Regions from separate parts of the Homo sapiens genome. Here region 1 is linked to region 2. Evidence: fine-mapped expression QTL. Tissue or cell type: transverse colon. Region 2 holds a variant in brackets; the other region holds the start of a gene. All regions are shown on one strand. Distances are from middle to middle.

Evidence for each region. PIP is the estimated chance that this variant, and not a neighbour inherited with it, causes the effect.
Region 1: it holds the start of LINC01719, and the variant in region 2 is fine-mapped to the expression of LINC01719 in transverse colon (GTEx, PIP 0.93).

What each region holds. Positions count from the first base shown.
Region 1 is chr1:146,050,510-146,055,656 of GRCh38, forward strand. LINC01719 (long intergenic non-protein coding RNA 1719) reads left to right here and starts at 2,087. Exons shown (of 3, transcript NR_125968.1): 1 at 2,087-2,439. RNVU1-6 (RNA, variant U1 small nuclear 6) reads right to left here and starts at 1,735; the gene lies at 1,572-1,735. RefSeq lists enhancers at 945-1,673, 1,674-2,405 and a silencer at 1,585-1,824.
Region 2 is chr1:145,960,491-145,965,637 of GRCh38, forward strand. It overlaps ANKRD34A (ankyrin repeat domain 34A), which reads right to left and starts at 4,085. Exons shown (of 4, transcript NM_001039888.4): 1 at 3,694-4,085; 2 at 2,820-3,047; 3 at 1,931-2,478; 4 at 1-1,389. The coding sequence starts at 1,269. POLR3GL (RNA polymerase III subunit GL) reads left to right here and starts at 4,200. Exons shown (of 8, transcript NM_032305.3): 1 at 4,200-4,278. RefSeq lists enhancers at 1-78, 442-1,277, 479-528, 3,927-4,096 and a silencer at 3,317-3,611. The variant G/C (reference allele first, on the strand shown) is at 2,604.

The sequences.
Region 1 (5,147 bases), 90 kb after region 2:
AAAGAAGAGGAAGAGGAGGAAAAAAAGAAGAGGAGGAAGATGTACATTGATGCCACTTTGAGAAGAAGTGGACTGTGGTGGATTTGTAATGTATCAGTTTTGCCAAGCTGAATGCACATTTCCCAGATTTGCCATCTTTAGATAGCTCTAGGTTAGCCTGGGCAACAGGAGACACTTGGAAGATAGAATTCGAGTGGCTGTTACACTCTTTTGTATACTGGGAAGGGCGTTGTTACAGCTCAGGCATGATCTTCAGCTTCCCTGACCCTTGGACTGGTGGGTGTTTTGCTTCTTGATCTAACATTAAGGTTAGAAGTTGCAGGATTCCAGCAGGGTTTTGTCACATCCAATCTGGTTTAAGTTCTCATATTATTAGGAAAGCTTTAGGGTGCTTCAGGAAAACGCTTTTTAAAAAATCAAATTTGGAAAATATCAAATGGAATTATAGGCAATAAGCATAACCCAGTGGAACCATGAATCAAACCCTCTAGAGCAGGGTTGTCTAAATTTTGGCTTCCTTGGGCCACACTGGAAAAAAAAAAAAGACACTTGTCTTGGGCCAAACATAATATACACTAATCGCAATTGAACTGTACCTGTAAAGCTTGTAAACAAAATGTGTCTGTAAAGTCTGTAAACAGGCCAGGTGCGGTGGCTCAGGCCTGTAATCCCAACATTTTGGGAGGCCGCGAGGCAGGCGGAAAACTTGAGGTCAGGAGTTCAAGACCAGGGTGGCCAACATGGTGAAACCCTGTCACTCTTTTTTTTTTTTTTTTTTTTTGAGACGGAGTCTCACTCTGTCGCCCAGGCTGGAGTGCAGTGGTGCGATCTCAGCTCACTGCAACCTCTGCCTCCCGGGTTCAAGCGATTCTCTTGCCTCAGCCTCCTGAGTAGCTGGGACTACAGGCACGTGCCACCACACCCGGCTAATTTTTTTTTTTTGTATTTTTATTAGAGATGGGGTTTCACTGTGTTAGCCAGGATGGTCTTGACCTCCTGACCTCATGATCCACCCGCTTCCGCCTCCCAAAGTGCTGGGATTACAGGCGCGAGCCAGTGCGCCCGGCCCGGTGAAACCATGTCTCTACTAAAAATTCAAAAAATTAGCCGGACCTAATTTTTTGGTTGCCTGAGCCTGTAATGCCAGTTACTCGGGAGGCTGAGTATTCTCTGGTTGAGGAAGGAGAATAGCTTGAACGCAGGAGGCAAAGGTTGCAGTAAGGCGAGATCGCGCCATACACTCCAGCGGACTGTTTGCTGTTAATCCCATAGGGAAAAGAAAAGCTTAGTTTTATTTCTATAGAACAACAACAAAAAAAGATAAGAGATTAGTAGAGACGGGTTCACTATATTTGCCCACACACGCCTGAGGTCGAGCGATATTAACATAAACATAACCTATCGACGTACCTCATAGATTGCTGGGATTACAAACGTGAGAACCACGATGTCCCAAATTTTTAGTTTCAGTGAAGTTACAGATGGGAACAAAGACCTGATTCTCAGCTTACGCTGACGCCCAGTATGCGTTTCTGCAGCAAACAAAACCTATTTTTAAAACGACAAAAATACAGGGGAAAGCGCGAATGCAGTCTACCACTGCCACAAATTATACAGTCAAGTTTCCCACATTTGGGGAAACTGCAGGGGTCAGCAGATCCGGAGTGCAATGGATAAGACTCGCTCTGGAAAAACCACCTTCGTGACCAGGGTATCTCTCCTGCCAGGTAAGTATGAGTTATTGCACCTCCGCCCCGCCGGCAGCCTCACACGCTTCACCCTTTACACGCACGGTCACTTGCCCCGCGCACACCCCCCTCCCCCCCAGCCCTCCTAGCCCTGACACACAGCTGGGACTCTCAGGTCCGACCAGCGGTCCTGAACCCGCTCCCACGGCACGGGAACTCCTTCGTGGCGAAGCAGCATGTGGCGAAGCAGCAGCCCCTGCGCTGGCTCATCTACATAGAAGTCGCCCTATCCGTGATGTCACCGACAGCGCCTTTCCCAGTCCCCGTCTGCCTTTCTGCCGCTCAGCCGACCAACCCGCTGCCGGAGCCGGCAAGGGGAAGTGACGTCTGCCTCTCCCTTTTTTCTCTCCTGCTTCCCTCATCTGTTCTCTTCCAAAGAAGCTGGTCCTTAGCCTGTATTGCGGAGCAAGCTTTCGGCGACCAGCTGGACCCTGGGCACCCTTCTTCGAACAATGGCTTTTAATTCTCAGACTAGAACGTTTAGGATTACAAAAGAAACTGGTTCTTTTCACATTCTTATTCTTGTGATGTAGCATTCCGCATATATATATATATATATATATATATATATATATATATGTATCCAACTATCCTAAAAGACACTACCCTTCATCATTCCATGCCATTAGACATGTATAGGACCATGCATGGTGATCTCCTCCAGACAAAAGTAAATGCTGGTGCAGAACAGGTAAGTGTACTATAATTTGAGTACATCAGCTTTTGGGCATTTTAAACCATGGGTCAGACAAGTTAGAGCAAGAGGGCAGGTTGATAGCAAGAGGGAGTGTTTTTCTTTTAATTTTCTTTTTTTTTGTTTTGAGACGGAGTCTCGCGCTCTTCGCTCAGGCTGGAGTGCAGTGGGGCTATCTCGGCTCACTGCAAGCTCCGCCTCCCGGGTTCACGCCATTCTCCTGCCTCAGCCTCCCCAGTAGCTGGGATTACAGGCACCTGCCACCACGTCCGGCTAATTTTTTGTATTTTTAGTAGAGATGGGGTTTCACTCTGTTAGCCAGGATGGTCTCGATCTCCTGACCTTGTGATCCGCCCACCTCGGCCTCCCAAAGTGCTGGGATTACAGGCGTGAGCCACCGCGCCCGGCTTCTTTTAATTTTCAAATAGCAAAGTGATGTTTGCCACTGTCATTTCAGAATGAGGTGACAATTTGTTGTTGTTTGGTTTTGTGGGGTTTTTTGTTTGTTTGTTTGTTTCTGAGACAAGGTCTCACTGTCGCCCAGGTTGGAGTACAGTGGCATGATCAGGGTTTACTTCTGCCTTGACCTCACGAATTCAAGCAAACCTCCTTACTAATCCTCCCAAGTAGCTGGGACTACAGGTGCATGACACCACACCCTGGGGTGTGAACTGGGATTTGATGTTTTCAGTTGGCTCCCTGATGGAATAGGTTCCCTTACTATTCTGGAATACAGATTGTCTTCATGATTATGATTCATAATCATAATGATTATGACAGCAGTCCCTGCTGTCAGGCAGGGACGTTTAAGTCTGCAGAAGCTGTCTGCTGCCTTTTATTCAGATATGCCCTGCCCCCAGAGGTGGAATCTAGAGGCAGTAGGCCTTGCTGAGCTGCAGTGGGCTCTACCCAGTTCGAGCTTCCCTACCACTTTATTTACACTGTGACCATAGAACCACATACTCAAGCCTCAGCAGTGGCAGAACCCCCTCCCCCTGCCATGCTCCAGTGTCACAGGTTGATCTCAGACTGCTGTGCTAGCAGCAGGCAAGGCTCCATGGGCATGGGACCTGCCGAGCCAGGCACAAGAGGGAATCTCCTGGTCTGTCGGTTGCAAAGACAGTGGAAAAAAGCACAGTATTTGGGCAGGGGTGTACTGCTTCTCGAGGTACAGTCACTCACAGCTTCCCTTGGCTAGGAAAAAGAAATCCCCCAACCCCTTGCACTTCCCGGGTGAGGCGACACCCCACCCTGCTTTGGCTCATCCTCCGTGGGCTGCATCCACTGTCCAACGAGTCCCAGTGAGATGAACCAGGTACCTCAGTTGGAAATGCAGAAATCACCTGTCTTCTGCGTCTATCTCACTTGAAGCTGTAGACCGGAGCTGTTCCTATTCAGCCATCTTGGAAGCAACCCTCTTTTTCTTTTTGTATTTTGGTAGAGACAGGGTTTCACCATATTGCCCAGGCTGGTTTCAAACTCCTGAGGTCAAGCCATTCTATAAAACAAACTTACATTTGTTTTATCTGAGTTCCTTCCTCAGGAAAGGACTCTCAGGCCTCTCAAAAAGCATCAGAGACCCGAAACTCAGCCAATCACAGCATCCAGACAATGAGATGCCAGTCCCCTCACTCATCACGAGTGCTTCCTCACCCCTCTCTAGTTCCTCTTTTCCCACACACAGTTAACTTTTCTTCTGCGCTATATAAACCCCTAACTTTAGTCAATCAGGGAGACAGATTTGAGACTCATCTCCTGTCTACTCAGCTGCAGCACCTGATTAAAGCCTTCTTCCTCAGCAATACTCAATGTCTCAATGATTGTCTTTCTGTGTGCTGAGAACACTGAAGCCCTGGGGTTTTGGTAAAAATACATGTACACTTTTAAAAACCGCAATTAATGGGTTGTGGTATATTGAGAAATTGGAGTGGCATCAACTTGGCCAATTCTGAGGAAACACACTGTGCTTAAGTGTGAGGGCCCTGCCTCCTGACCTCGACAGTTTATGGTTGATTTTGAGGCACAGCAGGGGAGTATGGCCTGGTTTGAGTGTTTTATAGAAATGTAAAACATGGCTGATTACTTTTTATTTTAAATCCAACAAATCTCCATTTCTGGTGAGAAAATCTTGCCAAAACCAACCAAACAAATGCGTAGAAGTATATGAAGAAGAAAATGAAAGATTCCCTGCCTCCCAATCCCACTTGCTTGGTGTCAGCCATTATTTATCACATGGAGGAAGGGGGCAAGACACACAGGAAGTCCCAAGTCCTGTTCTCACAATCATCTGGCCTCCCTGGGCAAAGGGAAAAGAGGGAAGGCAAAAAGAATATAACACTACTGTTTGCGGAAATTTCCCCTTGGTACAGGAAACTCTGGTAAACTGAGAGAGTATGTTTTCCAGAGGGAGGCCTCAAGGGCTCTTCTCTGGCCCTAAGCCCAAACTGGATTTTGCCTCATTTTCTGAGGTGCAAATGAAATGATAAAAGTTGATCAAAGGAGAGGGCAGAGAGAAAGAAAGAAAGAGGATGACTCCTCTCTCGCAGGTCCACCTTCCTTGGTGTTGCTTGAGGGATCAGAAGAAATGCCTTAACATAGGTGTGTGGGAACTATGGCTGCTAAGTATGAACTCAGTTACCTCCAGTTATAAGCTAGTGTGAGGTTCCATGGTGTAATGGTGAGCACTTTGGACTCTGAATACAGTG
Region 2 (5,147 bases):
ACCCGGCCGCGTTTGCGAGATGTGGTCCAGGAGCAACGTCCCCGAGCCCCTCCGCTCCAGCAGCCCCGGACTCCGCCTCCTTCCGCTTAGCGGAGATACTGCCCCTGGCAGACTCTCCTGGGACTGGCGCGGAGAGGGAGCCGAGCCGGCTGGAGGGAGGGTCAACGGGGAGGCGCTGTATCGGCGGCGCTCCAGGGACAGGCGGCTGGACTCAGGCGAGTCAGGGCAAAGGTGTCCAGGGGTGTCCAGCTCCACTGGCTCCATGCGGCTCAGTTTCTGCCTCAGCCCTGAAGGGGGACCAGACTCCTGAGCTTCTGGTGCTGTGTTTCGGCGAGAGAGAGGACCCCCGCTAGTCACTTTCTCCGCCCATGGGGGCGGGTCCTCAGGGCCTTCGGTGCTGTGACGTCGGGAAAGACGGGGTCGACCGGTCAGGGTCAGGCCATTGAATTCGGCAGTCAAGCGCTCGATCCCCGGTCTCCCTTCAGTGGGTGGGACTGGTTGAGGAGGGGCCACTAGGCCCCAGGGCTCGGAGTTGAGCCTTTTGAGTGGTTTTGGGGGATGGCGTGGTGGTTTGGGGAGCGGCTCGGAAGGGGATGGGTCATCGGGGGGCTTAGGAAGAGGGAATTCAAATACGTCCCGCTTCTCCTCTTCTTCCTGGGCGCGAGGGGATAACATCCCACGCCCTCCTCCTCCAGCGGTCTGCAGTTGGATTTCCGAAGGCGACGTGCAGAACCCCGGGCTAGGAGAGGCGGGAGCAGGGTCCTCCACCCCTGGGGATGGTGGAGAATTGAGATACTGCCGGGTCTTCTTGGTGCCTGAGGGCGAGGTATCGGTGGTGATGATGATGACCTCCGTACCCTTGGCCTTGCAGGCGTCCAGCAGTGTGGCAAGGGTCTCGCGGTCCCCGCGGTCCAGGGCGTGGACAAGAGCCGAGGCGCCCGCGTGATCTCGGACTGAGGGGTCTGCGCCGTGGGCAAGGAGCAGCGAGGCCACCGCGGCGCCCCCACCCCCGGCGCAAGCGTGCATGAGCGCCGTGCGCCCTAATCGGTCTGCGATATTGGGGTCCGCGCCTTGCTCCAGGAGGTAGCGTACCATGCGTGCCTTGTTCTGGGGGTCGTCGTAGCGGGCCCGACAGGCTGCCATTAGCGCAGTCTCCCCCTGCGCATCACCCTCATTCACGTAGGCGCCTCCCTCCAGAAGCAAACGGGCCAAGCGTAGCTTACCCTGACCCACCGCCCGAAGAAGAGCGTGGCCCTCGGTGTGCAACATAGCTGCGGCTGGGGCGAGGGCACAGATGGAGCCGGGACTGAGACCTGCCGAGGATGACTAGGGGTATGGGGAGGGGGAGTGGCTGGCAGAGGCCTGAGGTCTCAGTGACGAAGCCGATCCCTGCAAGAGAGACATCTCATTGATAGATTCGGCAGGAAAACTGAGGCACAGATGCAGGGACCCAGCGTGGGGTGGAGGAGACCTTCACGGCATACAGTCCTTCCTCTAACTCATGCCTTTGAGCCGGCCCTTCCCCCGCAGCGCATGCCTGAGGAGGTGGGAAGGGTGCACCCGCACTGAAGGACTAGCGCGCGTGCAAATGCGTTCGTGCACGCGCAGGGATGTCCGCACCCCCACCCTCACCCCATGGCTTATCAGACCTTTCCTCTGTCCCCCTTGTCTTATCCACACTTGGGATCCCCCTTTCTAGGATGCTGAACGCCACCCACCCACATACATGCACCCTACAGTCACACATGTATTCTCATTCCTAACCTGTTTTAGCTTGCCACAACCCCAAAAATTGAGTGGGGGGAGGGAAGCAGCCTGCATTTGAGACCTAAAACGGGTGGAGGGAGAATTGGGGGGTTCTATTGCCCCTGCGATGTTCCCCATCACTCCTTGCTCTTTCCCCTCCCAGGCTGTGTGCCCAGATAGATACCTGAATGTCCGCAGAATCTCCGCCTGGCCAGGATTGGGGCCGTGGCCACGGGGCAGCCGAGGTGGCGGAGCCAGTTTCCTGGGGGCCCGCATGGCGTGGGGGGGGGGGCACCCGGATTCCCTTGGTGTCAGTATCTGCGCCCCGGCGCCGGATCCTGGTCCCTCCTCCCGGAGCGCCCCGGGCACAGCGCCGGCTCGGGAGGAGAGAAGCTTGGCGGGGGGGGGGGGGGGGGGGGGGGCGGAGCTCTGCTGTGCTATTTATAGCCTAGTCACTGCGGGTGGGGGCGTCAGGCACCAAACTGCTCCCCCACTCATGCACACATAAACCCTCAAAAACCTAGAGGCTCCAATCCTGACTTCCTTTTCTCAGCCGACCTCCCCTCAGCCCCAACAAACCTAAGTGTTCCTTAGGGGACTCCTCCGCGACCCAGACAGGGACCATCATCCAGATTCTTCGCTGAGATTCAGCAGATCCCCATTCTCCGCACTTGGTGTGTTTGTGCGCTCCTGTGCGCCAGACCTGACCTGCCATACACGGCACATGGCACACTGTGTAAGAAAGGTGTAGAAAGGCTTTTTGGATCCACAGCCGGTGTCCATACTGTGCAAAGAGAGGCAAGAGATGTGGCTTTCTTCCTGTAGTTTAATTGTGAAGGAGATCACGGTCCAGCCTG[G/C]AGTCAGACACAGATACACCCCCGCCCCATCTCTCAAAAACGGAACACCCATCGCAGAGAAACTTGGACCTCAGCTCCCTTATGTAGACCTCTTAGATAAGTATGAGGAAGGTGGATATGGGAGCACTTTTAGATAAGGCAAGGGACATTCCAGGTGCCTCCACCCCGTATTATTGTGGGCAGGGAGATAGGACAGGGGCAGGAAGAAGAGCGAACCTTGTAATACACTCTCTCACATTGCATCTCTTTAATCTCAGTCTTGCTTAGACGTCTTATTTTTTCCATCTTGCTTGACGATCTCTGTCTGAAACATTCCTTATATCTTCTCTCTTCCTATCTGTCTATTGGTCTCTCACACTGTCTCTGCCTCTCCTTGCCACCTGCCCTGTCTCCATGGTTACCATAGCTTCCATCCACATATTTTAGGAATGAGTTTGTGTCCAGCTGGAAGGCACCAAGGGAAGTGGGAGAAAAAGAAAAATCCTAAGGATTTAAAAAGTTCACTCAGGGTCCTGAGCTAATTCAGAGGCTGGAGGCCCCCCAGATGCAAGATACTGAAAATAATGTTCCCGGGGATGGGAGAGAGAGAGAAATATTTGCAGGAAGCTACCCATTTTTACTAGTTATTTCTTGGACACGTGTCAACTATGTGCCATGTGCTTTACATACACTATTTTCAATCCTCACAACTTTATAAGATAGGAACTATCATCTTCTTGTTACAGATGAGGAAACAGACTTAATAAGGTTAAGCAAGCTCTCCAAAGCTTCACAGCTATGTTTCTGTCCTATGGCAAAGACTGGGAGCTTGCCACTACACCTACAGCCTCCCAGTCTACAGGCCATTTTCTCTGACATCTGGGATGTTCTTCTTGACTAACTCCTAGATTTCATCTCCATTCTGAACCTTTCTCCCTTGTTTCTGCTTTCTGTGAAAATAGGACTCCTCCTTCCACTCTGCTGGCTTTCCCAAGGAGCTCGCAGGAAGTGGAAAGTAGTGGAAAATGCAGAAAAAGCTGGGCTCCTGCCCTGTCTCCCCAACCCTGGTACGCTGATCCCAAATCCTTCCTTTCTTGAACCCTCTGCCCACCTTCTCACAGACACGGCAGCAACCCACAGAAAAACATTTTTAGAAAAGAAGTATCCATTGGTGGTGCTGGAGAGAGGCAGTGTATGATTGAAAGGAAGGCTGGAGTAATGGAGAGACCAAGCTATGAAGCTAGAGTCACAAAAAGACTGATCCCTAAAGAGCAGCTTTTACAGAGGTTCATTTCTCCGTAGGCCCTCTCCTCCTTTGGCCTCTCTGTAGGGGCTCCCTCAACACGGTCCCTCGATGAGATATGAGTGTCACGTTCCCTCGGTGAACTCTCGCCGGCTAGTGGCTCCTTCATCTGGAGTGAGACCGGAAATAAGTGACCCCAGCTGATTCTGCAACGCCCATCTCTCTCTGCGACCCGCTTCGCAAGCTTCGGTTCCGGGCGTACTCGCTCCCTCCCTCCTTCTCTTCCTAGGCTTCAAGAGGGCGGACTTCCCTCCTCGGCTTCTCCTGCATTGGCCGAGAAAACTCACCAATAGGGAGCTCCGGGAGGCGGGCTTAGAACGCCACCGACTTGAGGAAGCCCAGTACATTTCAAGTTGGTCGCGGCTTGGGCTCCGCTTTGGGGAGGGGCAGCAGGTAAGGCTTGACCTGGTTCGGTCCGACACTTGCCAAACTTGTTCACCCCGGCCAGGCTGCGAAATAGACAACGCTTTCCGTCAGGTTGTTGGATCAGCCCCCTTCTGGCTCCCTACCGTTTCTCCCCTGGGCTTCCATTTCTGTATTGATTGTATACTAGAGAATGGCAGTTTTCTATCGCGCATGGGGAGAGACATTAAAGCAGAAAACGAGACAGCCTCTTGTATCTGTCTTTGCTATAGCATCAACTTCCCCCTAATCTATTAATATTATCCCAAGAGCCTGACAAACTCCTGTTATCTATGAAGACTAGCTGAAATGCTACCTGTAGTTTTCCTGGGCCGCCTTTCTTGCAAAATGAATTGTTCCCCCGTCTACGATAGCGTTTTGTATATACCTTTATTAGGACACTTAGTGCACTGTCTCTCTTTAACGTTTCTATGCCTTTTAGAATAGAAGGTTTTGTAGGACAGGTGCTAGTAGTTAATATATAGTGCCCAATAAACGTTAGTTAAATAGAATTGATTTCTGGTAACTAGCACTCTTTTTGGGGAGGCAGAATTTAAACTCCTAACATAACTAGGGAACAATAAAAGACAATACAGTATGTAATTAAGAGCCATTAAATTAGTGGTTCATAATATTAGTGTTTCATAATTGTTTCTACAATCTAGAGAAGGAAGAAAGCAAGGAGAACTGGAATGGTGAGGGGAGGCTTTATGGATCACAATTTCTCAAGTTTGGAAAGGCCCATAGAAATGATGTATTTATTCATTCAATAAATATTTATTGAGCACCTACTATATGCCAGACACAATGCTAAATCATGCTGATCATAGGGAATCCTCTACTAGAGCCATGCATCCTTC